6 separate regions of the Homo sapiens genome follow, and regions 1, 2, 3, 4 and 6 are each linked to region 5. Evidence: fine-mapped expression QTL. A gene starts in region 5. Each other region holds a variant in brackets. All regions are shown on one strand. Distances are between the middles of the regions. Region 1 overlaps ANXA4 (annexin A4). Region 2 overlaps ANTXR1 (ANTXR cell adhesion molecule 1). Region 3 has its middle 26 kb from the start of ANXA4. Region 4 overlaps ANXA4 (annexin A4). Region 5 holds the start of ANXA4 (annexin A4). Region 6 overlaps GMCL1 (germ cell-less 1, spermatogenesis associated).

Evidence for each region. PIP is the estimated chance that this variant, and not a neighbour inherited with it, causes the effect.
Region 1: its variant is fine-mapped to the expression of ANXA4 in whole blood (TOPMed, PIP above 0.99). The same link has a PIP of 0.9 or more in monocytes after LPS.
Region 2: its variant is fine-mapped to the expression of ANXA4 in coronary artery (GTEx, PIP 0.92).
Region 3: its variant is fine-mapped to the expression of ANXA4 in whole blood (INTERVAL, PIP 0.99).
Region 4: its variant is fine-mapped to the expression of ANXA4 in whole blood (TOPMed, PIP above 0.99).
Region 6: its variant is fine-mapped to the expression of ANXA4 in whole blood (INTERVAL, PIP 0.91).

What each region holds. Positions count from the first base shown.
Region 1 is chr2:69,760,857-69,765,932 of GRCh38, forward strand. All of the region lies in intron 1 of ANXA4 (annexin A4), which reads left to right. Among named protein-coding and RNA genes, the nearest start is that of ANXA4, 21 kb to the left of the region's middle. RefSeq lists an enhancer at 1,777-1,836. The variant T/G (reference allele first, on the strand shown) is at 2,302.
Region 2 is chr2:69,084,438-69,089,513 of GRCh38, forward strand. All of the region lies in intron 8 of ANTXR1 (ANTXR cell adhesion molecule 1), which reads left to right. Among named protein-coding and RNA genes, the nearest start is that of MIR3126, 17 kb to the right of the region's middle. The variant T/C (reference allele first, on the strand shown) is at 1,945.
Region 3 is chr2:69,713,353-69,718,428 of GRCh38, forward strand. It overlaps a transcript of ANXA4 not described here. Among named protein-coding and RNA genes, the nearest start is that of ANXA4, 26 kb to the right of the region's middle. The variant G/C (reference allele first, on the strand shown) is at 3,126.
Region 4 is chr2:69,779,255-69,784,330 of GRCh38, forward strand. It overlaps ANXA4 (annexin A4), which reads left to right. Exons shown (of 13, transcript NM_001153.5): 2 at 2,266-2,320. The coding sequence starts at 2,312. Among named protein-coding and RNA genes, the nearest start is that of SMANTIS, 17 kb to the right of the region's middle. The variant C/G (reference allele first, on the strand shown) is at 2,106.
Region 5 is chr2:69,739,665-69,744,740 of GRCh38, forward strand. ANXA4 (annexin A4) reads left to right here and starts at 2,470. Exons shown (of 13, transcript NM_001153.5): 1 at 2,470-2,511. RefSeq lists silencers at 2,109-2,288, 2,499-2,738.
Region 6 is chr2:69,850,404-69,855,479 of GRCh38, forward strand. GMCL1 (germ cell-less 1, spermatogenesis associated) reads left to right here. Exons shown (of 14, transcript NM_178439.5): 9 at 4,420-4,557. Among named protein-coding and RNA genes, the nearest start is that of GMCL1, 23 kb to the left of the region's middle. The variant C/A (reference allele first, on the strand shown) is at 2,862.

The DNA of each region.
Region 1 (5,076 bases), 21 kb after region 5:
TTGCTATGCAGTAGAAATACAAAGTGAGGCTGAGTGTGGTGGCTCACACTGGTGAACCACTTTGGGAGGCCAAGGTGGGAGGATAGCTTGAGCTCAGGAGTTCAAGGTCAGCCTGGGCAACATAGTGACACCTCGTCTCTATTAAATTAATTAATTAATTAATTAATTAAAAAATAAATAAATATAAAGTAAGCCACAAATGCAAGTTTGAATTGTCTAGTAATTACATTCAAAAAAGTAAAGAAACAGGCAAAATTAACTTAATAATATAGATATATTTTACCCAATATACCCAAAGTAATATCATTTCAACATGTAATCAATATAAACATTATTAATGAGATATTTTATAGGCTTCTTTTCGTGCTGTGTTGTAGCAGTCTGATGTGTATTTTAAACTGATAGCACATCCAAATCTGAATGCAAATTTTTCATCAAATGTCTGTATTTAGATTTCATGAAATGTTCAGTTTTCACATCAATTTACATGCTCAAATTATTTCAAACATACTTCAAAAATTTTTCCAATAACTAAATCAAGTACCTAAAATAATTTTCCTTTAATATTTGCATCCACATGGAAAAAACTGATTCATGTTTTTTAAAAGAATTTCACTTCGAAGTGAAAAGGCTCTCGCTTTTAAAACTGCATCTTTCCAAGTTAATTCACGAACTCTCTTGTCAATTCCATCTCTTGTTCTTTACTGTGCCAGCCGTGATGCTTCTGCTACTCCACTCAATTGTACATCAGTAACGTGCCTTTGTTTTAAATCTTAAAACGTAGCTGGGTGCAGTGGCTCACGCCTGTAATCCCAGCACTTTGGGAGTCTGAGGTGGTAGGATCGCTTGAGCCCAGGAGTTCAAGACCAGCCTGGACAACATGGTGAGACCCCGTCTGTGACAGAGCAAGATGCTGTCTTAAAAAAAAAAAAAAAAAAACTTAAAATGTGTCCATAGCTACTTTTTAACTAGAAAATAATTTAATTATGTTAAAATAACTCAAACTTGTGCTGTCTGTAAAACTTCTTCAAATAAATACATTAAAATATTGCATCAGTGCCTAGAAAAATATCAAAGTGAATAAATCTGTTGGCACCAACTAGATTAGTGATTACGTGTAATACTAGAAAAGATGCCACATGCTTGACATGTGCCCTACACATACAATGGTTGAACAATGTAGCCCTACCAGAGCAATAAAGCTGTGTGTAATGGGGAAATATTTCATACTGCATCAATTTCAAAATTTAAATATAATTAAAATGAAACAAAATTTAAAATTTAGTTTCTCAGTCTCTCTAGCCACTTTCAGTTGCTCAGAAACATGCAGCTGGTGGCACCATATTGGGGTATAGAGACAGTCTGTCAAAAGACAGGGTGAGGAGCCAGGCGAGGTGGCTCATGCCTGTAGCAACAGCTACTTGGGAGGCTGAGGTGGAGAATCACTGGACCCTAAAAGCTGGAGGCTGCACTGAGCTATGATAGTGCCACTGCACTCTAGCCTGGGTGACAGAGTGAGACCCCGTCTAGGGGAAAAAAAAAAAAAAAGACATAGTGAACAGAACACTTTAGTGCCACCACGTGCACCTTTCTGTGTTAGCATCAGCTTTACAGCAGAGGAGGGATTGTAATGGGCCTGGTCTAATTCCCAGTTGCTAGCTGGTTTTCCCTTTGTTCTTCTCTGCTTCTTTTTCTGTCACAAATGCCTGGTTCTCTGGGCAAAAATAAATAAATAAGTATGTATTTATGTATATTAAAAATATAACTCCTAGCATGGATTTCTGCTAGGGTGCTTCTCACTGATCATGCCTCCTTGAATCTACTCTGCCACCATGATTCGCGCCCCAACACCTCTCGGCCTGCTTTGGATGAGGAGGGCCAGCTATGGGCCTACCTCACAGCTCCTCACCTCAGGGTAGGGTGTTCTGAATAGATCCCCACATCAGACAGAGCTGCTAGAGAGGCAGACCCCATCTCCCTATTGTCTCATAAACACACACACTCACTCACACACTCACACACACTCATACTCACTCACACTCACATACTCTTCATCCAGCTCCATCTGCCGTAAGTCCGTTTCACTTCCTCTCAGCTTCTAACATTATCTCATGACCATCCTAGTCTTTTCCATTGTGTCATGAGTTTCTCCCTTTTCTTCCCTGTGCCTTCACGAGAATCTTGAATGAGAAACTGGGAGCGGCTGCTGCATCAGAAATAGTAAGTTCCTCACGTGAATCAGAAATCCACTGTGGAAGAATTTTACAGTTCTGTTTTTGTGCTCTTCTGCCGGAATCAGCT[T/G]GAATTTTGGAAAGATGTGGGGACAGAACCCTGCCCTGGCCCAGAGAGGGAATGGCTGATCCAAGGGGAGGAGGAGTTGCCCACAGAGCTGGAACTTGATGACTTCGGGGCGCGGGAGGCCCCAGAACAAAGTGAGACTTTGAAGAGAGCAGTGCTTACTCTCTGCTCAGTTCCAGATCTCCGAGGTGGAGCCAGTTGAAATCTGTGTAGGAAACAAAGCTGCTTTTCTGGTTCATCTGGAAAGAGAGGGCTTTTTGTTTTTTCCCCACGTGGGCAAATAGAGGTGGTGATGTTGTGTTTTTAGAGCCAGAAGGAAAGTTCTGGGCTGCATAATGCCTATATTCCAGGCAAATAGAACCCAACAAGGAAAATGGTCTAGCTTTATCACTGACTCACTGCAAATCCCTTCCCTCCTGTACTTTAATTTATTCATTTTCTTTTTTTAAATGACAAACTGATATTATTTTTAATTTTTAAATACTTCAGTGACCACAGGACATAATACTTTTTTTTTTTTTTTTTTGAGATAGAGTCTCGCTCTGTTGCCCAGGCTGGAGTGCAGTGGCGTGATCTCGTCTCACTGCAACCTCCGCCTCCTGGGTTCAAGCAATTCTCCTGTCTCAGCCTCCTGAGTAGCTGGGATTACAGGCGTGCGCCACCACGCCTGGCTAATTTTTATATTTTTAGTGGAGATGGGGTTTCGCCATGTTGGTCAGGCTGGTCTCAAACTCCTGACCTTGTGATCTGCCCTCCTCGGCCTCCCAAAGTGCTGGGATTACAGACGTGAGCCACCGCACCTGACCTTAGTTTTTTTCTGACGTGGTCCTCTTCTTTTATCTCTAAGACTTATGATTGCTAAGACAACAAAAGATACCATCGTTACTGGCCAACCTTGGAATTTGGTCTTGGGAAATGGAGGCCTGTAGTTTGTAACCCATAAGAAGAGACTGAAGGGGCCTAAGTGCAGATGAGAATCCCTGGTGATAGAACAGACAAGAACTGGAGATCAATGCCAATAGTTTGTGATGAACGTCTTGGGGTTCCTGTGTGATCAACCTGTTGGGATTTCTGTATTAGTTTCACACTCACCTGTAATAGTTTACCAATGGTGTTTCTGAAAGATGAACATGAAATTAAGCGATCTTTCATGTTTCCTCGAGGGACTTTGATTCTAAAATAACTCTGAGAACAGATCAGGAAACATGATATAACCCTAACCATGCTTGACACATTTTCTCTTTAAATAACAGTTATACTTGAGGAGAGGATTTTACTCATGATGCTGTGCAAAAGCCACATGGATTCCACTGGTTTGGACTTTGCCTTAGAGTGGGCGTTGCTAAGTGATGGATAACAGCAGCGTGCTTCCCTGAGAGGCCACTGTGAGCCTCTTACTTAGGTTGAGAACTTGACCTCTTACTTAGGTTTTATACCACCATAAAATGCACCCATCTTAAGTGGTTAGTTTGATGAGCCATCGTTTCTTTTAAGGAGTTAACATTTAAAATCAACTTTTAAAAATTGTGGTGAAATAAATACACATGAAATTTTACCATCTTAAACATTCTTAAATGTAACAGTTCAGTGACATTAAGTATATTCACATTGTTTTGCAACCATCACCACCATCCATTCACAGAACTCTTTTCATCTTGTAAAACTGAAACTCTGTACTATTTAGCTGTAACTCCCTCTTCCCTTTCCTCCAGCATTATCATTCTGCTTTCTGTCTCTATGAATTTGACTACTTTGAGTACATATAAGTGGATTCATGTAGTATTCATCCTTTTGTGACTGGCTTATTTCACTTAGCTTAGTGTCCTTAGGTTCATCAGTGTTATAGCATGTGGCAGAATTTCCTTCCTCTGTAAGGTTGAATAATATTCCACTGTATATATTCCACTGTATATATGTGTATACACACACACACACACACACACACCACATTGTGTTTATCCATTTATCTGTTGAGGGACACTTGTTTTGCTTCCACTTTTGGCTATTGTGAGTAATGCTGCTGTGAACATGGATGTGCAAACATTTCTTCGAGTTCCTGCTTCCTGTTCTTTTGGGTATATGTATACCTAGAAGTGGAATTGTTGGACCATATGGTAATTCTATTTTTAATTTGTTGAGGAACCACCATACTGTTTTTACGGTGGCTGTACCATTTTACTTTCTTACCAGCAGTGTAGAAGGGTTCAAGTTTCTCCATATCTTCACCAACATTTGTTGTTTTCTGTTGTTCTGTTTTGAATAGTAGCCATTCTAATGGGTATGAGTGGAGTTCAGTGAGTGTTGGCAGATGTATATATCCGGGTACACTACCCCAATCAAGGTAAAGAACATTTTCATCACCCCTTGATGTTGCCTCATGCTCCTCTACAGTTAGTATCCCTTCTGCCTCACCAGTGCCCCCAATCACTGGCCCCAGACAACCACTTTTGCACTTTCTAGCACTATATATTAGCTTTGTTCGTTCTAGCGTTTCATGTAAATACTTTGTTTGGCTTCATTTAGCCAGAATAATGCTTTTGAGGCTTATCTAAAACCCTAGTCTAAAATCAATTGTGGATGGAAAATAAACCGCAGTGTGACTGGAGTTCGATACTATGCTAATGGTTGGTTAGAGAATACCATGGGTCTCAGAAAGAAAGTGAGAGGAGGAGAGGGGGGCTGAGGAAGCAGGAGAGGGCCCTTCCTAGCAATGAGGCCTTCAGGAAGCCCAAAGAGCCATAGCAATTAATGCCAGTCCTATGGCTTCGGGGGCAGCCA
Region 2 (5,076 bases), 660 kb before region 5:
CTTTATTGTTTAAGATACACAAACTGCTTCAAAATGTGTTTTGTTGCATGTAAGCGTGGTATAATGTATTTGGTATAGTGTATTAGTGTACATAAAATCATATATGAATCCCAGAAATACGTGTGTATAATATTCCATATTTGTATTTGTAAAGTTTTTTTTTTTTTTTTTTTTTTAGAGATGGGGTCTTGCTATGTTGCCCAGGCTGGTCTCAAACTCCTGGCCCCAAGCAATTCTCTCACCTTCACCTCCCAAAATGCTGGACTTACAGGCATGAGCCACTGCACGTGGCCATATTCCATTTTTATTTAAAGTCAGATTCTATAGAACTGACATGGATCTGGGGTAATGTCCATGGTTAACAATATGTGTGCCTATTAAAGTGTGGAGAATTTAGTTAGAAAAGGCAACTTTTTTTTTTTTTTTTTTTTTTGAGGCAGAGTCTCGCTCTGTTGCCCAGGCTGGAGTGCAGTGGCGCTATCTCGGCTCACTGCAAGCTCTGCCTCCCAGGTTCACACCATTCTCCTGCCCCAGCCTCCCGAGTAGCTGGGACTACAGGCGCCTGCCACCACACCTGGCTAATTTTTTGTATTTTTAGTAGAGACGGGGCAACTTTTTAAACATTTTATTAATTAGAGATTAAATCATTTCAAAATTCATGGGGACAACATTGACAGTCCTGAAGATGTGTTTGAGCCAGTTGTGTGTCCCAAGCTGCCTGGCTATCCCCAGGCTTATCCAATGTGCTTTCTGCCATCAGCTGTAATAATGTTTGTGGCGCTTCTGTGGGAGGCTGGGCCCCACCTGCCAACTACAGTTCTCTATGTTTTTCCCAAGAAAAGGGGTTGAGGCCTTTACAAAGCGGCCGACCTAATACAGGGGATTATGATATGCCTACAACATTTTTTTTTAAGGTAAGCAATTTTTTAAAAATGAGGTGTTGAAATTGGCCTCTTGGGAAGGCAGCAAGTCCCCAAAGATGGTGGTACTTAATCAGACGAGGGGAGTATTACAAGATGCAGCATATGGACTTGTATTCAGAAGACCCTGAGGTTACACTTATAGGGGGAAAGGGAGATTAATACATAATATGCTACAATGCCAGTTTATTAAGACGTGCAGGAAGTGTGTCATTTATTCATTTATTTATCCAATATTTATTTAATGCCTACTATGTGCCAGGCTAGTCATTGTGAATATAATAAGTAAAAACAAACCCAGTCCTTCTCCTTGTAGAGTTTATAATCTAAGAAGACAGTGACCAAACAATAAAAAAAAAACACTGTAAATTATAAACTAGGATAAGTTATCTAAAGGATGGCAGTTTACATTAAAATGTGCATGGATATAGAGATATTTCATTGGTCAAATCACCAGCACTTAGGTGGCAGAACTCATATTGGATTTGGAGAGTGACAGAGAGAGCAAGGCTAACTTAAACGTTCAGGTTTTTGTCTTAGACAACTGAACAGATGTAAATGGTCGGTAGATACTTAACCATCCTTGACACCAGCATACTTCAAACCCCATACATCTTTAAACCAGAATTTGCCCTTTACAACAAATAAGACACCAAGGAACATGCTCTGAAAGACTTTCTGAAATATGTGTGAAAGCAAAAGACACCTATACCATCAAGGGATAAAAGAGATTGGTCCATTATAAACACACAAAAAAGTTCTCCAACAGGAAATGGCCAAGTAAATAAAGATTGGTTGTTTATTAAAGCAAGAAGCAGAGCAAGTAGAAAAAAGAAATGCCGTGCCTATGATAAGGGAGGGATTCCTTATAACTCTGTGCAGATATTCACAGTTCTGTAAAGATTCTTGAGAAATCTCTGCATAAACTGAGAACTTCATGACAAAGGACATTAGATTTTTAGAATTTGAAAAAATAAACTCTTCTATACAACCCGGACTGGTCCACAGTGGATTTCACTTTAAA[T/C]ATATCAAACAGCTCCTGTAACTTGGCAAAGTTCTTGTACATCCGCTGCCTCTCTTACTCGTCCTCCCACCAATAATCCAATGAGATGTACAAAAGTCAACTTACCAGAAACAACACATGACAATTATTTAGCTCTTTATGGATTTCAAACATACTTTTCCATCTATTTTCTCTTTGAAATCTGTCCAAAAGTTGGCAGGAAAATAGCATTAACCTTGGTTCAGCTTTTGTCAGCAAATATGATTAAGCAGAAGGCCAGGGGTGGGCGATGGGGCGTAAGCACATGTGAACCACGGTCCACGCCCAAAAGTAGCAGCAGTAGCAATAGTAATGACAAAGGAAGAGCTAACAGCCACTGTTGTTTGAATACATGCCAGACATTCTCTTAAGTGCTTTACTGCCAAGGTCATTTTGACCACTCTTCTTGGTGCCTTATTTTCATAAGGTGCTCATGCTGGCTGGTGACCCAAGGGTTATTAACTTTCTGTGGATCGATCACATCTGTCTAGTTCTGTCTATAAGACAAAAACCTTGTCAGTTTTCCTTGATCTCATGCTCTCCCTCACCGTCCAATCCAATATGAATTTTATTACCTAAATCTGATTGATTTTCCAAACAAAATATCTCTGCGTTCATGACTGTTATTTTATTTAACCATCATACAGCCCCTTGAAGTTGGTGTTTTTCTTATCCCATTTTACAGCAGAGGAAACTGAGATTTGGAGGTTTAATAACTTGTCCGAGTCCACATGGCCAGTAAGTGATGGGACTTGGATTTGAATATAAACCCATTCAGAGTCCAAGTCTATCTTCTCAGTCTCCAGAGCTTAAGTTCTTGATAGTAATAGCTACCATTAGTTGATTACTTATCAGGTTTTAGGCACTGTGCTATGGGCTCTGCCTGTGTGATCTCATTTAATCTTCCCACACAACAACTTTATGCTCGTACTTCAGGTAGATACTATTGTTATCCCACTTTTATAGAGAGGAAACAGGGACTCAGAGAGGTTATGGAACCTGCCCAAGGTCACACTGCTCATGAGTGAGTTGACCTCAGCTATTTGATTCCAGATTCCAAGCAATTACTCAGGATACTGAACTGCTTTCCAAAATTGGGGTTCAGAAAAGTTAAGGGATTTGTAAAGGAGCATAGGTCAGGTAAATACGGACCAGGGCCAAGACCCAACTCTTCACATGGGATTATACTTGAGGCATGCAGTTATCTTATCCCTCTCTCCTCTGCAGATCAATCATACCCTCACCTTAAAGCCTCTTACCTCTAACATCAGCCTTACCCTGTGTAAGTCTCTTCCACTGCATCTAGTGATTTCCCATCAGCGATTCCCCAGTGCTGTGTCTACACCTCTGCCATGGCTACCACTGCCCGGGCCTCCCTACCCCCACACAGTCTCCAGTCCCTGAGCTGATCTGCTGTCTGCTACAGTTCAGACAGGCTGATTACCATACAGTCTTGGCTGCTAAGAACCACGAGAACCCTTCAAATCCACCAACTGCCATTGTGACTTCCTACCTTTTGAAACCAGACATTTCAAATGAGTAGGAGCCCCAGTCCCAGACAAATCCTGCCCATCCCCCTCACTGATAAATTTTACTCTATTGGCTGTATTGCATCCTTCCAGATGTTTTAAGTTAAGATTGGGAAAGCTGTGTTTTTACTGGATTGAATCACAGTGCTTGGCTGGCATTTTTTGGCCCTCCATACACCCCTTAGATTTATCAGCTAATTGCAGACACTTTGAGAGAATAATACAGCATGTGTTTATTATGACAACCCCTGTTAGTGTGCCTTTGTGGTTAAAGATCCACGGATGGTTCCTTTACCAATCCCTGGTTAAGGATCAGAGTTGGTTCAAAAAGGTTGGTTGAAACTCGGGTTGGGTAAAAATTTCATGTGTGTGTTTGGGGAATGGGAACAGGACTAGTCCAAAAGCTCTTTTTAAATTCTTGGACTGTTTTGAAGTCTTTAGTTTTGGATGATAAAATGATTTATTAGGAGATGTCAAATGCCTGAGGAATTTTATTTAAAACATCAAAAAACAGCTTTGTGTTGTTCTAATATCACTGTTTAATAAGTTTCTCCCTCTGGGCTACCTCTATTTCTCAAATGTGGGCTGTCTGGAGACTTGTGCCTGAGGACAAGTCAAAGGGGGTGGCTTCCTCCCTTGGTCATGGCAACCACTGGCTGAAGTACCCCATCAAACAGGAAGAGCCCAAGAGCAGCAAGTTCAGGGATTGGCAAATGGACAATCTTCACAATTCAGGCAGGGCTGTCTGGGATGAATCACTGTGCACCAGGATGCTAGCAAGTCCCAGTCCTAATACGGTGCTATATGCGCAAGAGACCGAAAAGACTAGATCAACCATAAGGCACTGGGGAAGCCAGCAGGGAAACACAGGTGCCCAGGATATATCCTTGGGGTCCTTGTTCCCAAGTTAGACTGACAATGAGTGGAAAACAGGAGCTCAGTGTTTTCCCCAGGTGCCCAGAGCAGGTGTGTGAGGACCGCTGACTCTAACAGAGATGGGCAAGGGACATGGGAGTCCGGAGCATTCCCTTCATGCTACAGTCAGGATAGACTTAGGGACCAGGGAGGAACTGAGGCTGCACCTGTGTCTGGGGTGGGTGGAGGTGGCTAGGTAAGCCAGAGGCTGAGGAAATGAGGCAGAAGCTGAAGGAACTAATTACTTCCAACTGCGGAGTCAGAAGGATGCTGCAAACAAATAGGGGAATCAAAGTATAAAAATGCCATGAAGTTCTACAGAGTGAAGGAAAAGTAGTCAGAAAATCTGAATTTTAGAATTGTCAAGAAGAAATGTTGCTTTTGGTGACATTCAGGTACATAGAGTTACCTAAAATACATGGTTGGGAGATAACCTATTTCAATGAATGCATCTTAATATTTTCTTAAGCATGTTTGTTCATTTTCTTTCGCAATGCTTCTCTATAAGGATGCCCAGATTTCTCTCTGGAATGGGTAAATATTACCTCTTCTGAGAAACTGATTTGTTTTCATTCCACAGATTGAGAAAGCTCATAAATATTGGCTGTCCTTTTCGTTTGCTACTAGAAAGCTTGGAACTAAGTCCACTCTAGCAAGGAAATAAGCTCCT
Region 3 (5,076 bases), 26 kb before region 5:
AGCGATATGTGGATGATAAGATTGGAAGAAGCCACTCTTATGTTCGGTGGTGTGCTGGTAAATGTTTAGCAGCTGGCTCTGGGGCAGAGAGAAAGCCCTGAATTGTAGTATGTGCCAATCTCCATGGTGTAAAAACACTTCTACCATAGCTGCTTCCAAGTATGTAAATTGTACACCTCAATAAAGCCAATTTAAAAAGTAAAGTCAATCAGTTTGTAAAACTCTTGAGACTTTAACATTCAGTCCAGCAAGCTGTTACCTGCCGGATCCAGCAACACACAACCCGTAACATAACGAGTTGGGTCTCAGCTCCCCGCTCTTCACAGACTCCAGAGTTCTCTCCCCTTTGTGGGGTTCCTCATCCATCCTTCCATTGCTTCTGCTGCTGCCCTGAAGGCATCACCGCTCTCCCGTCTCCTCTTGGGGCACCTAACTCTCTTAACAGTTTAGGACTTTGAGGAGTTTTGCCTTTCACAAAAAGAAAGAATGGGGGAAAAACGGTTATGCCTCAGCAGCTTTCGCTGTCTACCCTGCAGCACAAATTCCACTTGATGGAGGAACACAAAGGTCGGACTCCCTGCCGTGAAGAGGAGAAAGGGAAATTCGAATATGGAAGGAGCTCTACTCTCCCTTGCTCTGTCCTCCGCAAGAGAATGGGGCAGAACATTCTTTAGTCTACACCTCTGTCCCACATGAGTTGCCAAAGACCACAGTGCCTGGTGGGTGACATCTCTCCAGGCTTTTGAAGACATCTGAGCCTGGATTTTGAGCACATTCCTGACCTCCCTACTGGGAGGCTCTTCTCCTTCAAGGTCTGCCTTCTGACAAGCCCTAGCTCTTTCCCACCTCCAGTGGCTGGGTGGGCCGGGGGGTGGGGTAAGGGTGGAGATGTGGGCACATTCTGGGAGCCCCACCAGAACCCCATGGAGTGGAGAAGTGACCTTCTAAGGAGGGGAGCGTACAGTTTCCGGAAGGGAGGAAGGATGCGGTGAGGACCAAATGCATCCATGCAGGATTTCAAATATAAACGACTCTATAGAATACAAGCACCTACTCCTGGCAACCGAAGCCGAAGGAAGCCTAAGAATATAAGAGACGGGGCTTCGGCGAGGGCACGTGACCGAAAACTCACATAACACTCCACCTGCCCCAGTCCAGCCAGCCTGCTGTCCACAGTGTGCCCATCAGTGTATCAAACCTCAGTGCTTTATTTCCTGGGATCCTGGCCGAGCTCCCATTAACCTCCTGTGTTGTCCCCACAGCTCCTATACATGGGAGAGGGCCTGCGTTGGGCCAGATCCCAGAGCTGGGGCCTAATTTGTGATGGGATGCCCTGGGAGGCAAGCGTGCTTCAGCATGTACCCAATCAATAGCCAGACACCCAGGTCCGGAGGTGCCTGAGTCGGTCAGCAGGACGTTGGGCAGGTCTAGGTTCAGAACCTCTGCAGTTTTTCCCTTGGCTTCCCCGGGGCTTGTCCACAACGCCCCCTGCTGCCCATTCTTGGTTAACCTTGTGTCTTGTGGATACCTCATCAGATCTGTTCATGAAGCCTAACGCAAGGTCCTCCCTCCAGGGTGACACAGTGAAGTCAAGTAACAGATGTGGAGATGCTTTGGAGAGCTTGAAACAGAAGACTACATAATAACAATGGGCCAGTATCATAAAGCCAAGATTGAAGAAGACAGAACTGAATATCTCCCTCATCTGCAAAACTTGCCTTATCTTTCAGTATCATCCTGTTTCAGTGGACAGAAATCAATCCATCATATATTTGAGCCCTGCTCTTATAACCAAGTTAAATTTTGCCTAAAATAAGGCCCTGCCTCAAGCAAATCATGGTTTGTTTTTTATTTTATTTTATTTATTTATTTTTTGAAATGGAGTCTCGCTCTGTCACCCAGGCTGGAGTGCAGTGGTGCAATCTCCTCTCACCACAACCTCCCCCTCCTGGGTTCAAGCGATTCTCACCTCAGCCTCCCAAGTAGCTGGGATTACAGGTACGCACCACCATGCCTGGCTACTTTTTGTATTTTTAGTAGAGACGGGGTTTCACCATATTGGCCAGGCTGGTCTTGAACTCCTGGTCTCAAGTGATCCTCCCACCTCGGCCTCCCAAAGTGCTGGGATTACAGGCATAAGCCATCACGCCTGGCCAAATCATGGTTTAGAAAAGGGAGATGGTCAAATATAATTGTTATGACTGCCATAGTACCTACTATGTCCCAGATAATTTGCCTAGGTTTTTAACCCTCACAACACATCCCTAAAACATTGTACAGATGCAAATGCAGAGGCACGAAGAGGCTTAAAACATTCCCAAAGTCACATAGTTACTATAAAGCCAGTAACTGGCTCTATGTCTATCTGAGTCCAAAATGTGTTTTGTCCCCTTCTGTGCCTATGCACAGAGGGCAGTGGGAACATAAATGGAGGTGGAGGGAGGGGTAAGAAGGAGACATCAGTGGTCTACCCTCTTTATGTGATAACAGACTCCCTCTTTTATCTGGCAGCTGCTCCCTCAAGAGGAATACCCATTCTTTCTTCCTAGGTCAAGAAAGAGAGTCCAAGGCATGGTCAATCACAACACTGTCCCTCTAGTCATGGGCCAAGTGCTGGGCACACGTCACCAGCCAGGCTACTCTTAGCCTTTCCCATAATTTTAATAACCTGAGACTGGGAGAAAGAAGCCTCACTCTCTCCTGGAGTGATCAAACTGTATGTAAGTCTAGAGTTCTCTGTGAGTACAGTCTCCTCTAGCAAGAAAGGATGAGACCAACTCATAATAAGAAGCCAAAATACATGTACATATGAGTAAGAGAGAGAGAGAGAGCTGACAGCATTGTTTGGGTGTCTGGATCTAGCCATTCCTGTGGTGGCTCTGTCTAGTCCTTACTTAAATGAGTTAATACATCCCCTTTTAACTGAAGCTAGTTTGTGTTGGGTTTCTGTCCCTTAAAGTCAAGAGTCCTGAGAAATACAATACTGGTCAAAAAAAGTCTTCATAGAACAGGTGAACCAGGAAAAAAGGGATTCACCAGAAAGATAAGAGGAGAGGCAGAGGGTGAACGTAACAGCAGCTGCACTCGAGGAACTGCGAGCAGCTCAGGATGACTTGAGCTGAGAT[G/C]TGCAGAGGGGGTTGGAGAGACGGGCGAGAGCCACATCAGGGAAGGCCTTGTTTGTCAGGTTAAAATGTTTGGTCTTTATGTGAGGGCGACAGGGAGCCCCCAAAGGGTTTCAAGCAGTGGTGTGACATGCTCAAGCTCGTTTTGAGAAGATCACTCGGGAGAACGGGTCTGAGAGACAGCACAACAGGAGGGCAGCGGATTAGTTATGAGGCTGCTCCGGGAATCCAGGTGAAGAGCTCAGGATGGAAAATGACTCGACGTTTTTGACTTGGTCATTGGCCAGAGGGGAGGGCAAGAACGAAAAGAGTTGTGTTTTGTTCATGTGCAGTTTGAAGTAAGTATCATACATTTAAATGGAATTGTCCAGTAGGTTTACTAAAAGAGATGACAGAGTTGGCGATGTTTAAGTTTTTCTGAGTCATCAATTCAGCTGTTTGCTGTCTGCCTACTACTGGCCAAGCACTGTGTGGAGGAGAACACCGTCCAGCCTCTGCTCCCTGGCATCACACTGTGGCAAGACAAAACAGATGATAACCAGAGAAACCAATCAAGAAACAAGGGAAGTGCAGGGGAGACCGTAAAGCAGCATCGTGTAGCAGAGGGGCTGGGGTGGGGGCTCCATCTCTTCAGTGGTCCTGGAAGGAGGAGCTGACGCCCTGAGGGTGCAGGAGGTGGCTGAAGATGAATATTCTCCAATTCATGCCCACTGAATAGGAACATGCCCATTTAAAAGCATCCATATGCATTTTGTTTGGCTTGTTGGTTTTCTTTGCCTGCCTATGCCTTCAAAGCTGGCATTGAGGTGGCAGGAGGCTTCTGTGCAGAAAACTGAGGCTGGTGCTGGAAAACTCCCACCATGGCCCCTTTGTTCTCATCCAGTGCCTTTCATCCCACACTCCCAAAGCCCATCCTGGCGCCCACCCTTTAATTGTCAGGCCTGGCTCATCGACACAAGCAGGTGGCATTTGATCATTATTCCTGCATCATAAATGAGGGTAACAAAGGCCTCCCTCTCCAGGGTATCAGCCAATATTATTTTGTGAGTTCAAGGGATCTGACTTTGAGTTGAAGCAGAAAGGCCTGATGTCCCATCCTTTTCATTTCTGGAATTACCCGTCGCTGCATCTTTCTGTTACCGCCATTTCCTCTTTAACTCCACGTATCTAACTGGAAACTTTGCTTTTCTTTGTTTCATCTTCTTTGGAATATGTTGTTCCCTGTGACCCCTCCCCACAAAGCCTTGCCTCTGCAGCAGATGCCCTGAGCCTTCCTGATGCCTGGGACTGGTACCTCATCCAGTTTGCTTGTTTCAGGCACTAACTAAACTAGAATGTGCCTGGATCCCTATGGGCCTTGGCTTTCTACCAGATGACAGGCAAACTAAGAGACGTACACAACCTATGCACTCCCTTCCCTCTAGAATGTTTCAGCAGGGGTCCTCTAAGTAAGAAAGCTGGAATTAAAAGGAATAGTTTTAATGGGGAAACCCTGGCTAGGGAGATGCTTGATACCCTAAGGCTGTATGTCTAGCTAGGTCAGGCATAGCTCAGTGCGGTCTGCATTTCATAGCAGATGTTTAGTTTGGAAAGTCCCCTGGCTACTTGGCTTCTAGAGCCCTCTCTCACCATGGGACTTCTCTGTGGGAGGACAGAACTCATCAATCACATTCTCCAAATGTCAAGTTCCTGCTGTGTAACCCCAGGAGAACCTTGCTTCCCATCTACATAACAGAAGTGAGGACCCCAGATTTGCTAGACAAAAGCTTGAACCTGTGGGGAAAGGTCCCCCCAGCTGGTCAGAATTCCCAAAGAAGGCTACCACTGGGAGATGGATTGCAATATAAATGGCACCCCCACCCTCTGGATGTTTGTCATTTCACCCTTCCTTCTTTACCTGACAATCTCTTAAGAGATTCTTGGGGGGATGTAATACACCAGCCAGGAACTAAAT
Region 4 (5,076 bases), 40 kb after region 5:
GATGTCTAGTTATGTAAAAAATAAAATAAAATAAATAAATGTGTCGTCTATCTCTCCTGGTAGACTATAAATGCCTTGACAGCAGGTTCATTGTCTTATCCACTGCATTATCTCTATCAGTGCCTGGAGAGGTGCTGTGAGAGGTCATGTAGGAACATTTGGTGATTGAATGAGTAAATCTACACAGTCCATGAGTCACTACTTCTGATAAAGTCTTCCTTCCAGACATCCCCCATATATCATATTCCAGTGCCACACCCTGCCCAAGCTTTTGCCTCTACCCATCTGTTCCTGTAGCTGTCTCTCAAGCCTTCTTAACTCCTTCTCTCTCACTCCAGTCTCTCTCTTTCCAGTTTACCCTATAGTAAAGTACAGTACCTTGTTAAAGCTTTTCTTTTATTATGGCATTTGTCTGCAAATAACAAAAAACTTTCCACAGTATTCCCATGACCTATGGTATTCTGTAGCCAGACTCCTCAGCCGGCCGTGCAAGGCCCATACCATTCAGTTCACTTTGGCTTTTCCAACCTTGTTTCTGAGCCTTCCCTGGAATGAGCCCTCTGCTGTCACTCCCGCATTTCCTCATTATTCCTGAAACTGCAGCTCATTCCCACCTCTGTACCTTTGCTCAGGGTGTGTCCCAGGACTAGTTGGTTCTCCCCTTAGTTGAACCCCCAGGTAATAGGGGGTAAGTCGGCAATGAATGATGGGAAACAGGAAGAATGAAACTGGAAGGTAAAAAGCAAATGTGATCAAACAAGGCCTAAATGGTAATCAGGTGGGTTAAGAAGGACTTAGTTATCATCAAAAGGCACACTGCTTGGTCAGATTATCTAGACCAGTGCTTTTCAAACTACTGTGCAGGCAAATGTTTGGGGAATCTTGTAAAAATGCAGATTCTGGGAGTAGGTGTGGGGTAGGGACCTGAGATTCTGCTTTTTTTCTATCTCTCTCTTTTGAGACAGTGTCTCACTCTGTCACCCAGACTGGAGTGCAGTGGCATGATCTTGGCTCGCTGCAACCTCCACCTCCCAGGCTCAAGTGATTCTCCTGCCTCAGCCTCCCAAGTATCTGGAATTACAGGCGTGTGCCACTACCCCCCAGCTAATTTTTATATTTTTAGTAGAGATGGGGTTTCACCATGTGGGCCAGGCTGGTCTCAAACTCCTGACCTCAAATGATCCACCTGCCTCAGCCTCCTAAAGTGCTGGGATTACAGGCGTGAGCCACCACGCCCAGCCAGGTTCTGCATTTTTAACAAGTTCCCAGGAATGCATGTACTCCTGGTTCTAGGATGACTCTTTGAGTATCAAGGATCTAACTAAACTCTGAGAAGAGGAGCCTTATCCAGGTGGTTCGCACCTGTAGTCCCAGTGACTCGGGAGGCTGAGGCAGGAGGATCGCTTGAGTCCAGGAGTTCGAGGCTGCAGAGGGCTATGATTGCACCACTGCACTCCAGCCTGGACAATGGAGGGAGACCCTGACTCAAAAAAACAAGAAAAGAGAAGGTGCCTTGTTTATATGACTTAGATATGGGAATAGGAGGTGGTGGGCTGCCATTAGGGGACTGTTTATGTGTCATGAGAACTCCACAAGAGTCCTAGACTACAGTGAAGACATTTCTTGCATTCTGAACAACTGAAAAAAATGTGTGATGATGATGAAAGAGGGGGTGCTGAAAACCGAGGACAAAGTTGAGTGTATAAGCCTGCAGCTTAAAGGGAAGAAAATCTTTAATCCTAGAATGGTGGCGGTGAAAATCGCCACTGGGAAACGAAAAGATTCTAATGTTGGTTGGGCTGCCGGCCTGTCATTACACACACACAAACACACTCACACAGATGCACACACAGAGGGGAGGCTGGTATGCTGTACTTTCCTCTGATGCAGTTGGATTATCTCTTTTCTCAAAGGGGGAACCTCTTCTGATCTGCTGTAACATTCAGTTCAGAATCTGTGTCCAGCTTGAGTACAAGTATTGGTACTTAACCTAACAAAACAATAGGAATCCTTTCTGTAGTGTGTATCTCCAAACAGAAGAACAGGTGGGAAAATATTTTACCAGTGTGATAAAGTTGACTTTTTTTAACAGTTTCTCTAATTAG[C/G]CCATTCCTTGTATCTTTGGCTAATCAGTAACTGGCCTTTTGATTAAGTTGGGTGTCATTTCCTCATGGCTTAGCTTCATGCAAACTGCAAGTTATCCTGATTAATGATTTTAATGCCATTTCCTTCATCACAGTAATTTCCCCTCTGCTTTTATCACAGAAGAACTTCTGCTTGGGTGGCTGAACTCTGATCTTGACCTAGAGTCATGGCCATGGTAAGTTGTGAAATACCTCAACCCTATCTGGTGCCAGCTGCCAACAGGTACAGAATGTGGGCTCAGCAACTGTTAGCTTAAACAAAGCATTGTTTACTCAACAGAGGGGAAGGAGGAGGACATGAAAAGGCAGGTCTATTTCTAAACATCATTTAAATTTCTTTTAGGGGTGGTAAGCAACTTGACCTTGAAAACTGATTCAAAGAGAGAATTCTTTGAATTCTTTTAACATCCTGAGAATATAGAAACAAGTTGTAATTTTCTGTCTGCAGAAGCGCTACATGTTTATTTTAGAACATTTAAAAAGGAAAAACTAAAAATTCTTTAGGTTCTACCACCTGAAGAGGACTGCTATCGATACTCTGAGGTAGCCACATCATTTCAGGCTCATCAAGAGGGGTGTTTCTTAACAATATGGGTGTGTTGGCTGCCTCCTGCTTTAGACAGTAATCAGACACCTTGGACCTTGGTTATTTGCTCTTTGGAACAAGCATCGAATTGAATCCCTTTGAGAGTTCTGTAAAGTTCAGCTCTGAGGTGGAAGCTGAGCCTCTTAGCTGAAAACATGGCTGTACCTAAGGCTGGACATCTGCTCTCCTTCTCTTGCCCAAATACGGTTTCTGAATAGACAAGTAATTCTGATCCGTGGTCTTCTGGAGGAAGCAATAATAGAAGTAGAAATCTTATACCTAGAGAGGAACTGGAGAGCCTGACAGCTTGAGATGCCTTCCTTTAGGAAGATGGGTGTGTAAAGTAAACTATCCTGAACAAAGAGTAATATACTCTTAATTTCTTTTGCATTAGATATTCCAGAATTTTCTTCATGATCTCTGACAGTCAAAGGCTTATTCATGTGTGCCCCAAATCTCTCATGCTTTAGTTTAAAATCATTTTCTTGCTGATTGATTCTCCCTGGCCATGGAGAATTTTTTTAAAAATATTTACGTATTTTTATTTTTTATAGAGATGAGGGGCTCGCTATGTTGCCCAAGCTGGTCTCAAACTCCTGGCCTCAAGCGATCCTCCCACCTTGGCCTCCCAAAGTTCTGGGATTACAGGCATGAGCCACTGTGCCTAGCCAACGTGGAGAATATTTATTCAGAAATGCTTATGGTGCCCCTACTTTGTGGCAGATGTGGGACTAGGACTCAGAATTAATGAGATGCTCTTCCTGTCTTCAGCAGGCTCACAGCTTTCCTACAAATGAAGACTGTAATCAAGTGGCCCTTTGTGTGCTTTCCACTCGGAGAAAATTACCTCAGTTGCTCTCATCTTTCCTCCTAAAACCTGTTTTTCTATCATGACTATTATTTATTGACAGATAAAGGACATTTTAAAAAGAAAATCACACTATACAGTCGCAACATTGGAAACACCAACTATTTGCCATTTTTTAATTTTAGACCTTACTCATATGTATAATGATTTTTAAATAAGAGTAATAAGAGCATAAATAATAGTTTTGTAGCTTTCCTTGTACCCCACTTAGTATAGGAAAATAGGAAACAAGTTATTCACTCTGATCTTATGCTTTATCTCTTCTCTATGCTAATGAGATAATGTAATGTTTATATTACATTTCATATCATTAAAATTATTTACTCTAGTGGTTATGAGTGTTTTAATTTTCTTCTTAATTTATTTTTATTTTTATTTTTTTTGAGACAGAGTCTCAATCTGTTGCCCAGGCTGGAGAGCAGTGGCGCGATCTTGGCTCACTACCACCTCCGTCGTAGGTTTAAGCGGTTCCCCTGCCTCAGCCTCCTGAGTAGCTGGGATTACAGGCGCTCGCCACCACGCCTGACTAATTTTTTGTATTTTTGGTAGAGACAGGGTTTCACTGTGTTGGCCAGGCTGGTCTCGAACTCCTGACCTCATGATCTGCCCGCCTCGGCCTCCCAAAGTGCTGGGATTACGGGCGTGAGCCACCGCGCCCAGCTTTCTTCTTAATTTTTAAAAAATTTTCCAAATTCTCTATAATATTTTTTAAATCATTGTATTCAAGATTTTAAAACATGTTTTATGGAGGTATAATTGGCATATAGTGAAATGCACATCCTTTAAGGTTACTGGTCGTTAAGTTTTGACAAATACATATATATACCCACATAACCTACTCTCATATCAAGGTAGGACATTTTATCATTCCTAGAAGCTCCTCCATGCCCGTTTCATATTAACTCCCCTTCCCACCCTCCACTCCACACAAGAAATGCAACTGCTGTTCTGAGTGTTATCATAAGTTAGTTTTGCCTGTTCTAGAACATCCTATATATTGAATCATAGAGTAGGTACTCTTTTGTGTCTGACTTCTTTTTCTGGGCATTATATTCTTTTGCAATTCATCCGTATTGTTGCATCAGTAGTTTTGTTCCTCCATTCCTTTTTATTGTTCATTAGTATTCCATTGTATTGTACTCTGATCTTTTTGGCATGTATCTTCTTCATTATTAATGTAATAACAATATTTCATCAATTGTGATATGGCACCTATTTCTATCTATTCATTTTTGTCATTCCTTCCTATATCCTCTCTGTTTCCTTTGCCTGCTATCACAATGGGCCCTCTTGGGACAGAATTCCCTGTCTTCCCAGAATGGATAATGGCCTATTATACTCTGAAATTCAATCAATATGGATATTTATCATGCTAACAGGGAACACATTTCTTGATCTCTTTCTTGGAGAAAAAGAGTCATTAAGAATGCTAACTGATAAACGGAACCACCCTTGCCAATTCCTCTATCGATTCACCT
Region 5 (5,076 bases):
CCTCCCACCGCGGCCTTCCAACGTGCTGGTGTTACAGGCGTGAGCCACAGCACCCAGCCCTATCTTTAATTTAAAGGCTCCTTGGAGTGGAATTTCAACAATTATATTAATTTTTTAAATACTCTTAGATCAGGTTTCCTGGAAACAGAGCCTGACCCTAGGATTCTTGTGCAAGTGCTGTAGTGAGGGTATTCTCGAGGGAAGCCTCCGAGTAAGTGAGGGAAATAGGATAGGCCAGAGGGAGAAACTGAGCAAAGATATGGTTTCTGATGAAGTTTATCCTCAGTCTGATCCCATGGGAACTCTGGCATATGAAGGGTACCACAGATTTATTCCTGGCCTTTTATAAGCTAAAAAAGTTAGCCTCTGGCCATGGCTTCCTCAGTCTGGTCTGAGCGCAGATGTCAGCAGATGGGGGCAATGAAGGGGCAGTGACCTGGGGCTGGATGCACCCACCTAGTAAAGGTTATTTACGCGGGGTGCCAACGCATCTACTTCATTCCTAAACTTTATTTTTTTCATGTAGCTTAATTTTTTCTTTCTTTTTCTTTTTCTTTTTTAGGGACAGGTTTTCGCCATGTAGCCCAGGATAATCTCCCAAACTCCTAGCCTCAAGCAACCACCTGGGCCTCCCAAAGTGTTGGGATTACAGTCTGAGCCACCTCACCTGGCCTAATTGTTGCTTGTAAGGGATGCAGTGTCTCTCTAATCTTGCTTAAGAAATGAATTATCTGTATTTCATTTTTTTTCCTACTGTTTGACCTTTAATTTTTTGTTTTGTTTTGTTTTTGTTTTTGTTTTTGTTTTGAGACAAGGTCTCACCCTGTCGCCCAGGCTGGAGTGCAGTGGTGCAGTCATAGCTCACAGCAACATTGAACTCCTGGGTTTAGAGTGATCCTCCTGCTTCAGCCTGGCTAGTAGCTGGGACTACAGGCGTGGCTATGCACCCGGCTAATTATTTATTTATTTTTTGTTTTCTTTTCTTTTTTTCTTTCTTTTTCTTTTCTTTCTTCCTCTTTTTTTTTTTTTTTTTTTTTAGACAATGTCTCACTCTGTCGCCCAGGCTGGCGTGCAGTGGCGCAATCTCAGCTTACTGAGCCTCTGCCTCCCGGGCTTGGGTGTTTATCCCACCTCATCCGACTGAATAGCTGGGACTACAGGCGCATGCCACCACACCCGGCTATATATATGTTTTTTTTTTTTTTTTTTTTGAGATGGGATTTCACCACATTGGCCAGGCTTATCTCGAACTCCTGGGCTAAAGTGATCCACTTGCCCTGGCCTCCCAAAGTGCTGGGATTACAGGCATGAGCCACTGTGCCCAGCCTTAATTTTTTAAGTTATCATATGCAGATAAAAGAGGCAGAACCAGTTTTAGTATCCAAATCAGTCTGATCCTAAAACCCGTGCTCTAAACCATATTAAACCACCTTTTAAAATTACATCTTAATGAAATAATTTAATGTTACCTCTCCAGCTTTAAGGGTGCCATTAACCACTTAGATTTTGATGTGTCGGATGGAAAACACTCCCCAAACGGGCTATTCTCTGTTTTTTAAAAAAACTGAATTTGCCTATAGACTCAACGGATTCATTCTGCAAGCATTCACTACGTGGCGAAATCGGTGCTGGGCATGGGTGCAAAGACGACCTAGCCCTAGTTGGTGTCTTCAAGAGGCTGCGTCCAGCAGGGGAAGCAGATATGAAAACACAGAACTATTACAAGGGATGAGCGCCGCGCCAAGCCGAACCTGGGAGCTACGGACAGTGTCTAAACTTTAGTCACTCACAGGAGTACAAAGATCCGGGGCTGCTCCTAACTCCTACTCCAAAGCTTTCCTGGCCTGCTGGGCGCACAGGGAAGAGGGAAGTGCTGGAAACTTTTGGGAATGTGTGTTTTCATGTGAAAGAGGGGAATGAAATGTATCCTTCAGATTTCACTTTCTACTTTTCCGGCCACGGGCTCGGCACGACCTGCCGTTGGGAGACGAACGGTTTCCCGAGGTGGGGGGAAGCGCGGATTTGCCGCGGGACTCCGGCTTGGCGCGGAGCTGGGCGCGGCAGGCGCAGGGAGGAACTGGCGAGGTGGCCCGGGCTCGGCCCTCCGAGGGTGTGGAGCGCCCGGGAAACGGGACCCCAAGAATCCAACTGCTCCCACCCTGCGCGGCCAGGAGCGGGGCTGGCGATACTGGGGACACTGTCCAATCCGGGCAGGGGGCGAGGCCGGGGGACCGGGCGGGCCTGGGGAGCAGGCACGTGTGGAGGGCGGACCCGCCGGGGGTCGAGGCCTGCCTCTCCGAGAGCTCCTGGCGCGGCCGTCCCGGCCCGGGGCCCCAGGTGCGCTTCCCCTAGAGAGGGATTTTCCGGTCTCGTGGGCAGAGGAACAACCAGGAACTTGGGCTCAGTCTCCACCCCACAGTGGGGCGGATCCGTCCCGGATAAGACCCGCTGTCTGGCCCTGAGTAGGGTGTGACCTCCGCAGCCGCAGAGGAGGAGCGCAGCCCGGCCTCGGTACGAGGGGTAAAGGGGCTCCGGGCCGGGGGTCCTGGGCTCAGGGAACGGGGAGCGTGGCCCGGGAGCGTCTCGCGGGGATGCCCGGCTCCGCGCTGCACCCCAGAGTGGGTGCTCGCCGCCGGCTTGCGGGCAAGCCCGGGCGGCCACAGGGTGGAGGGGGCCAGCGGGCCCTGGACTCGCTCCGGGTGGGCGAGAGGGAGGCGAGCGCGGTGCTTAACCGCTGGCACCATCCAGGACATCCAGGGCCGCTTACACGGCTCAGGACGCGGGTCAGAGACCACGGCAGTTATTTATTCAGTCCATGTGCTAGGCTTTGCATCAAAAAGAAAGGACCGAGATAATCTTGCCTGTAGCTAACTCCTCCTAACACCTCTTACAGTTTACTTTTTAATTCTTTACTCCATTTAAGAAACTTACTCCTTTCTCCTAGATCCTTACCACTTTCTTACCTTCTCGTGTGTCTAATGCCCTCGGCACAGTGCCCGGCACATCGGAGTCTGATTATTATAGGGTCCATGACTTGAGTTGGCTGGTGGCGCAGTCTCAGCATTTTGTCATGACTTTGACCAGCTGGAGACTTTGGTGCCAAGGAGGAAGGCTTCTCAACCATTTACCGGCAGAAGTGACCCCCGGGGCAATGCAAGTCTTCTGAGCTGACAGAGCAGAGTGGGTCCTGCATAACTCGTGCTTTACATGGAACTGGGCATCTGCTCTCTCCTGCTGACAGTGGGAAGGATAGATAAGGTGTCCCTCTCCAAGTTATCCATTCTCCTGCCCACCAGTCCATGACACCCCACCACCCCCTTCCACTCCCTACTGTTTGCCCTTTAATTTTTTGTTTTGTTTTGTTTTGAGACGAGGTCTCACTCCTGTAGCCCAGGCTGGAGTGCAGTGGCTGGATACAGTTCACTCTGCCTCCCAGGCTCAGGTGTTTCACCCACCTCAACCTCCTGAGTAGCTGAGACTACAGGTGCATGCCACCACGTGCCTATAGTCTCAGCTATTCAGGAGGTAACTGGTAACTCTATTGATAACCAAACCCTAGATTTTTTTTTTTGAGATGGAGTCTTGCTCTGTTGCCCAGGCTGGAGCGCAGTGATATGATCTCTGCTCACTGCAACCTCCGCCTTCTGGGTTCAAGAGATTCTCCTGCCTCAGCCTCCCGAGTAGCTGGGACTACAGGCGTGTGCCAACACGCCTGGCTAATTTTTGTATTTTTAGTAGAGATGGGGTTTTAACATGTTGGTCAGGCTGGTCTTGAACTCCTGACCTCAGGTGATCCACCTGCCTTAGCCTCCCAAAGTGCTGGGATTACAGGCATGAGCCACCGTGCCCAGCGGCCAAACCCTAGGTTTTTAGTTGCCAGGGAATTCTCAGACACAGGTGGAAGAGCAAGTAGGAGAGGAAGTGGACAGGGATAAGAAAACGGATAACCCCATGACCCAAGAGCTGCTGACTCTCCAGAGCCCTATCAGGCCAAGGCCATCCTCATTCAGCTCATGTCAGATTTCTGTTGATTGAAGATAGAGACACAAGTACACCCCTGCCCCCACCCACACATAGACAGGCACAGACACACAACTACTGGATCAAGGGCTTCTGTGAATTTCCCTCCTAGATGTTCTTGCATTTGGTTAGGGATAATGTTTCTCTGCAAGCAATTTAGAGAGTAACCCGCACAGTCAAGCCATGTACCACTCCAGGCCTTGGTGTTTAAAGGGTGAGCCTCCTGGTCATCCCCAGGCTCATGTCCAGTGGCATGTTTCTTTGTTTATGTCCAGCCACTCATTTGTTTTCCTGAGCTCATTTATTATCTGCTTTTAGACTAAGCCTGCTTTTCTCCAAGGGAGATAAAGATGAGTGGCAGGCACTGGGGATTGTGGGCAGTGTGCCAGGGAGTACCTGAAGTTCCAGAATAAACAAGGGGTGGGGAAGCCTGGGCAACATAGCAAGACCCCGTCTCTACAAAAATTTTAAAAATTACTTGGGCATGGTGACACCCACCTGTAGTCCCAGCTACTTGGGAGGCTGGGAGGGAGTTTCACTTAAGCCCAGGAGTTCAAGGCTGCAGTGAGTTATGATCACACCATTGCACTGCAGCCTGGGTAATAGAGTGAGGCCCTGTCTGAAAAACAAACAAACAAACAAACAAAAACAAGAGGAGGAGATTTTCTTTGAGTGTCATTTTTACACAAATATTTGAAATTAAAAAACACTTTTTATACTAAAACAATCACAGATATATTTTGAAGTAGAATCCAAAAATTGTATACCTTTTAAATCTAAAACAAGAAACCTCAAAAACATTTTGCTTGGGATTTGAGCTGCAATTTGGTCCAAACCTAGCCCTTGAGGGTTTGTTTTCACTGCAATTAGGGCTACTTATGGAGGCAGTTTGATAGACACTGCAGTGTCCTCCCTGGAGCAACTTTGAGTAACACTCATCCTAGGCTGTCTTATCTAATCTTCACTTCAACCTGCAATGGGGTTATTAACGTTGGTTTACAGCTGAGGATCCCAAGGTTCCATATCATAATCCTTGGTCAAGTTCAGACCATTTGT
Region 6 (5,076 bases), 110 kb after region 5:
TATTTTTTACGGCTGTCAGGTGCAAAGAACTGGATAAATCCTTAGTTCGTGATTTTCTTAGTTTATGGCCACCTTTTTGGTTTATTTTTAATACGTTGAGCCTTTGTGACCTAATCTTTGAGTACTAGAACATCAGTAACTTCAGTCTTAACTCATGTGCTTCTTTTCTATTGTGTCCCTCTGACTTTTCCTAACCACTATCTTGAACTTCATGTTTATTCTTTTGCTTTATAAATATATATTATTGCACCATGTATATACGTCTTAACATATATTACATAGTGGTGTGCTAATAAGCTGACTCTGAAAAAATAATCCTTGATTAGTACCATTTCTTAATTCCCATGGTACAAATTTTCCCATCATGGCTGATTGATTGCAAGCTACCAACATGACATCACTGAATGAGAAAGGAGATGCACACAGCTCCTATGAGCTAGCAGCAACACGCCACTGTATAATATATCATTTTGTTTTAGTTGTTATGGAACTATGTCACATTGTGGCCTTAATTTTAATGTCCTTTATAACTAAAGAGATTGAATGACTCTTAATATGGTTATTAGCCATATGTTTCCTCTTCTGTGAGATATCTGTTCAGGTATGTTTCCTATTTTAATGTCAGATTTGTCTTTTCTTATTGATTTGTAGGCATTCTTTATGTATTCCTGATAACTAATCCTTTGTCATACATATGTTCTGCACTTCCAGTTTGTAGGTTATCTTTTTAATTTATTAAAGATGTCTTTTTGGTTGGGTGCCGTGGCTCATGCCTGTAATCCCAGCACTTTGGGAGGTCAAGGCAGGAGGCTCACTTGAGACCAGGAGTTCAAGGACAGCCTGGGCAACATATCAAGACCCTGTCCCTACAAAAAGTTTAAAGAATTAGCAGGGCAGCCTGGCACGGAGGCTGATGCCTGTACTCCCAGCACTTTGGGAGGCTGACGCCTGTACTCCCAGCGCTTTGGGAGGCTGAGGTGGGCAGATCACAAGGTCAGGAGTTGGAGACCAGCGTGGCCAACATGGTGAAACCCTGTCTCTACTAAAAATACAAAAATTAGCCGGGTATGGTGGTGGTCGCCTATAATCCCAGCTGCTAGGGAGGCTGAAGGAGGAGAATCGCTGGAAACCAGAAGGCGGAAGTTGCAGGGGGCCGAGATTGCGCCATTGCACTCCAGCCTGGGCAACGAGCAAAACTCTGTCTCAAAAAAAAAGAATTAGCAGGGCGTGGTGGCATGTACTTGTCTGTATTCCCAGCTACTGGGGGGAGGATCACCTGACCCTGGGGGTGTCAGGGCTGCAGTGAGCCATGGCCACACACCACTGCACTCCAGCCTGGACAGCAGAGTGAGACCCTGTCTCAAAAGGAAAAAAAATGTCTTTTGATGAATAGATATTCTTAGTTTTAAAATTTCATGCTCTTTATATCTTAGTTAAATACATTTTATAGAATTATTTTATGTAGTCAAATTACCTACCTCAGAGCCAGATAAATTAATTTTCTATAAAGTTCCTGAAGTAAAAATGTGTAAAGAACCATATCAGTGAAATATAACTTGATTTCCTTGAAGAACAAAAATACTAAACTTGTATCTTAAATTATACTTTTGTGTTACGTTATGGCAATTAAAGAAGGACTAGGGAAATTATAGAGGAGAAAAGTAGGGGAAAGCATTTAAATAGAAGAGAGAGAAAAGCTGAAAGAGACAAGGATGGTGAAGAAGTTAAAAAGACAAAGAGACTCAGTAGAAACAGTAGATATTAGGCAAATGTTGATAGAACCTTATGATCATTTGTGCTCCAGATAGATCCACCACAGCAATCAATCAAAAGAGAAATTGCCCTGTAGCCTAAGTGGCAGAAACTAGAGAAGCAAGCTGTGGTCCACTTCTGGATTCCCACTTGAGGCTCTCCCTCCCAGCCCCTGAGGTGTGAAAGTATACAGTTCAAGATAACTTTTCAAGGAGACATTGATTGCACAAACCAAAATGTATGTCTGATGCTCTTGTTTTTCTATGAAGATTTTACAGAGTCATTTTCAATAGTTTTAAAATTATAAATAAGATGCATACTTAGGAAATAGGATAGAAAAATCACCTGTGATCCCTCACTCGTTATATTTTGGCATATGTCTGTCTGTCTTTTTTTTTTTGAGACAGAGTCTTGCTCTGTCACCCAGGCTGGAAGTGCAGTGGTGCGATCTTGGCTCAGTGCAACCTCCACCTCCCAGATTCAAGCAATTCTCCTGCCTCAGCCTCCCGAGTAGCTGGGACTACAGGTGCATGCCACCACACCCAGCTAATATTTTGTATTTTTAGTACAGATGGAGTTTGCCATGTTGGCCAGGCTGGTCTTGAACTTCTGTCCTCGAGTGATCTGCCTGCCTCGGCCTCCCAATGTGCTAGGATTACAGGCATGAGCCACCACACCTGCCATATATTTTTGTATATTTCTTTTAAGTTTTCTTAATTATTTGACTTTTCAGATCTATATGGATCAGGACTACAAGAAACAACAGAAATTTAGAAAGTTTTCTACACAATTATACTTAAGGATTGCTATTGAATTTGGCTGATGGAATAAGTATGGCCACATGTTGTCCAGCAAGAAACTTTAAAACATTTTTTTTGGTTCTATAAATTCTTACAGAAGTAAATGAGCCAGTCTCTTCTACAGCCGTGACGAAAAGGCTTCATGAGTTAGAATCACCAGATTTCTATGAGACAATCCAGAATTAGATTTTTATATCTTGTTCATGTGACAGAACACTTGTAAAAACAAAATGGTATTCTCAGCACACCCCCTGAAATTGGCACATTTAATTCAACATATGAACTGGAACCAATGTTGTTATTTTTAAA[C/A]TCAAGAGATATAAATCCACTGTCACACACCTGTTGTATAAATAAGTGAAGTTAACTATTAATTTTTTAATGAATTTACTGCTTTCTTGTTTGCTTTGCTGACTCTAGGCAGGTGCCAAGGGAATACAAAAAATATATGAGATAATGTGGAAATTCTTTTCATTAACTTGGCTGTCTTTTTACAATTTTCAGGAAAAAAATATTTTAGTGGGGAACACCTTCTGGTCTACAGAAAACCTGTGTTCCATGTGAAGCATGGTTTGAGACATAATAGTCTATAATGGCAACTGTCATGTTTTTCTCCTTATCCTTAATAGCAACAGGACTGGGTATACATACTCTCCTGGGTATATGTCGTTTAACAGAAAACATAGACTAGGGCTCATGCACAAATACCTGTTTGATAGCAGTAACTCTAAACCTTTCCTTCTGACTCATGAAAGCACACTGGAATGTAACTGAGGGTAATTTTTAGGAATAACCTTAAATTCTCCCTAAAAGAAAAAAAATTATATACTTCATAAACTTGAATTATTCTATTTTCTTTTCTTTTTTTGAGACAGAGTTTCACTCTGTCACCCAGGCTAGAGTGCAGTGGCGCAATCTCAGCTCACTGCATCCTCTGCCTCCCGGGTTTAAGCAATTCTCTGCCTCAGCCTCCCAGTTAGCTGGGTTTACAGATGCCCACTACCACACCCAGCTAATTTTTTTTGTATTTTTAGTAGAGACAGGGTTTCATCATCTTGGCCAGGCTGATCTTGAACTCCTGACCTCGTGATCCACCCTCCTCGGCCTCCCAAAGTGTTGGGATTACAGGCGTGAGCCACCACGCCCAGCCAAATTATTCTATTTTCAGTATTATTATTATTATTATTATTATTATTATCATTATTACTTATTTTAGAGACAAGTTCTTGCTCTGTCACACAGGCTGGAGTGCAGTGGTGCAATCATAGCTCACTGCAAGCTGAAACTCCTGGGCTCAAGCAATCTTTCCACCTCAGCCTCCTGAGTAGCTGGGATCACAGGCGTGAGCCACCACGCCTAGCCATACAGTGTCTTTCTTATTTTGTATTTCAATAGAGAATTAATATATTAACTAGTGTTCATTACATGTAGCTGAAATGTAAGTTAAAAGAAATTAAGAGATATTCTTTGTCCTGTGTACCTTATCCTTGAGTGAGGCTTTTGGGCTCCAGAGTTTCACTGGCCTGTTCAGGTCTTGGGAGGGGGATTCTGGCGAGAATGTGTAATCCTAAGTACCTTTCTCAAGCCTTCCTTTCCCAACTTGCTGCACTATACATGCCAAATGCCCAGAAACAGCTGAATTCCCAGCCTGGGGGTTTCATTAAGACCAAAGTTAATTTCCTGGGATTTTAAAATAAATCTCCTTATGTTCTTATCTGTAAACCTAAGGTTTATAAAATTCTTGAGAACTTTAAAACTAGCTTATTTTGTATTCTAATAGACATGAATGTACGTATCCCCCGTCCACAAAAACATTTAAGAATAATAGGTTTGAAAAGAATGGCTGTTTAACTTACATGGTTTTTTATAGATTTTGAAGGTATGGCCTTTCTTGAAACTGAACAAGGAAAACCATTTGTGTCAGTATTCAGACATTTAAGGTTACAATATATTATCAGTGATCTGGCTTCTGCAAGAATTATTGAACAAGATGCTGTAGTACCTTCAGGTAAGAGAACATAATTTGTAATTTTAAGTAATATATTTCTGATTATAAAGTAATATAGATCATAGAAAAGAACAAGGAAAGAAGTAGAAATTATTATTAATCCCAAAAAGGTATACATCTTTATGCCAAAGTGGAATCATCCTATAGAAGTAATTTTCTGTGCTTACATATCATGAGTATTTTCCCATATCATATTTCATGAAATACTCTCTAGAATATTTAAATGATTATCTAGTATTCTGTAATATGGATGTTCTTTAATTTAATAAACCAGTACATGATTTTGGATGAGACTTTTTAAAATGACTTTTGAAGTATTTAAAGATCATAAGTGATTTTTCTATTAGTGCTCCTTAAATTTGTTTATTTTGATTTTTTCTTATTCTAAAGTCTTAAACTTCATGTTGAAGCAAATGTGTCTTTGCTAATTATAATTTAAATTTTTTGAAATAACTACTGATTTACCTTTCTGAGTTAAATCTCTAGTGCTTGTGAATAATTCTATTTAGTACTATATAT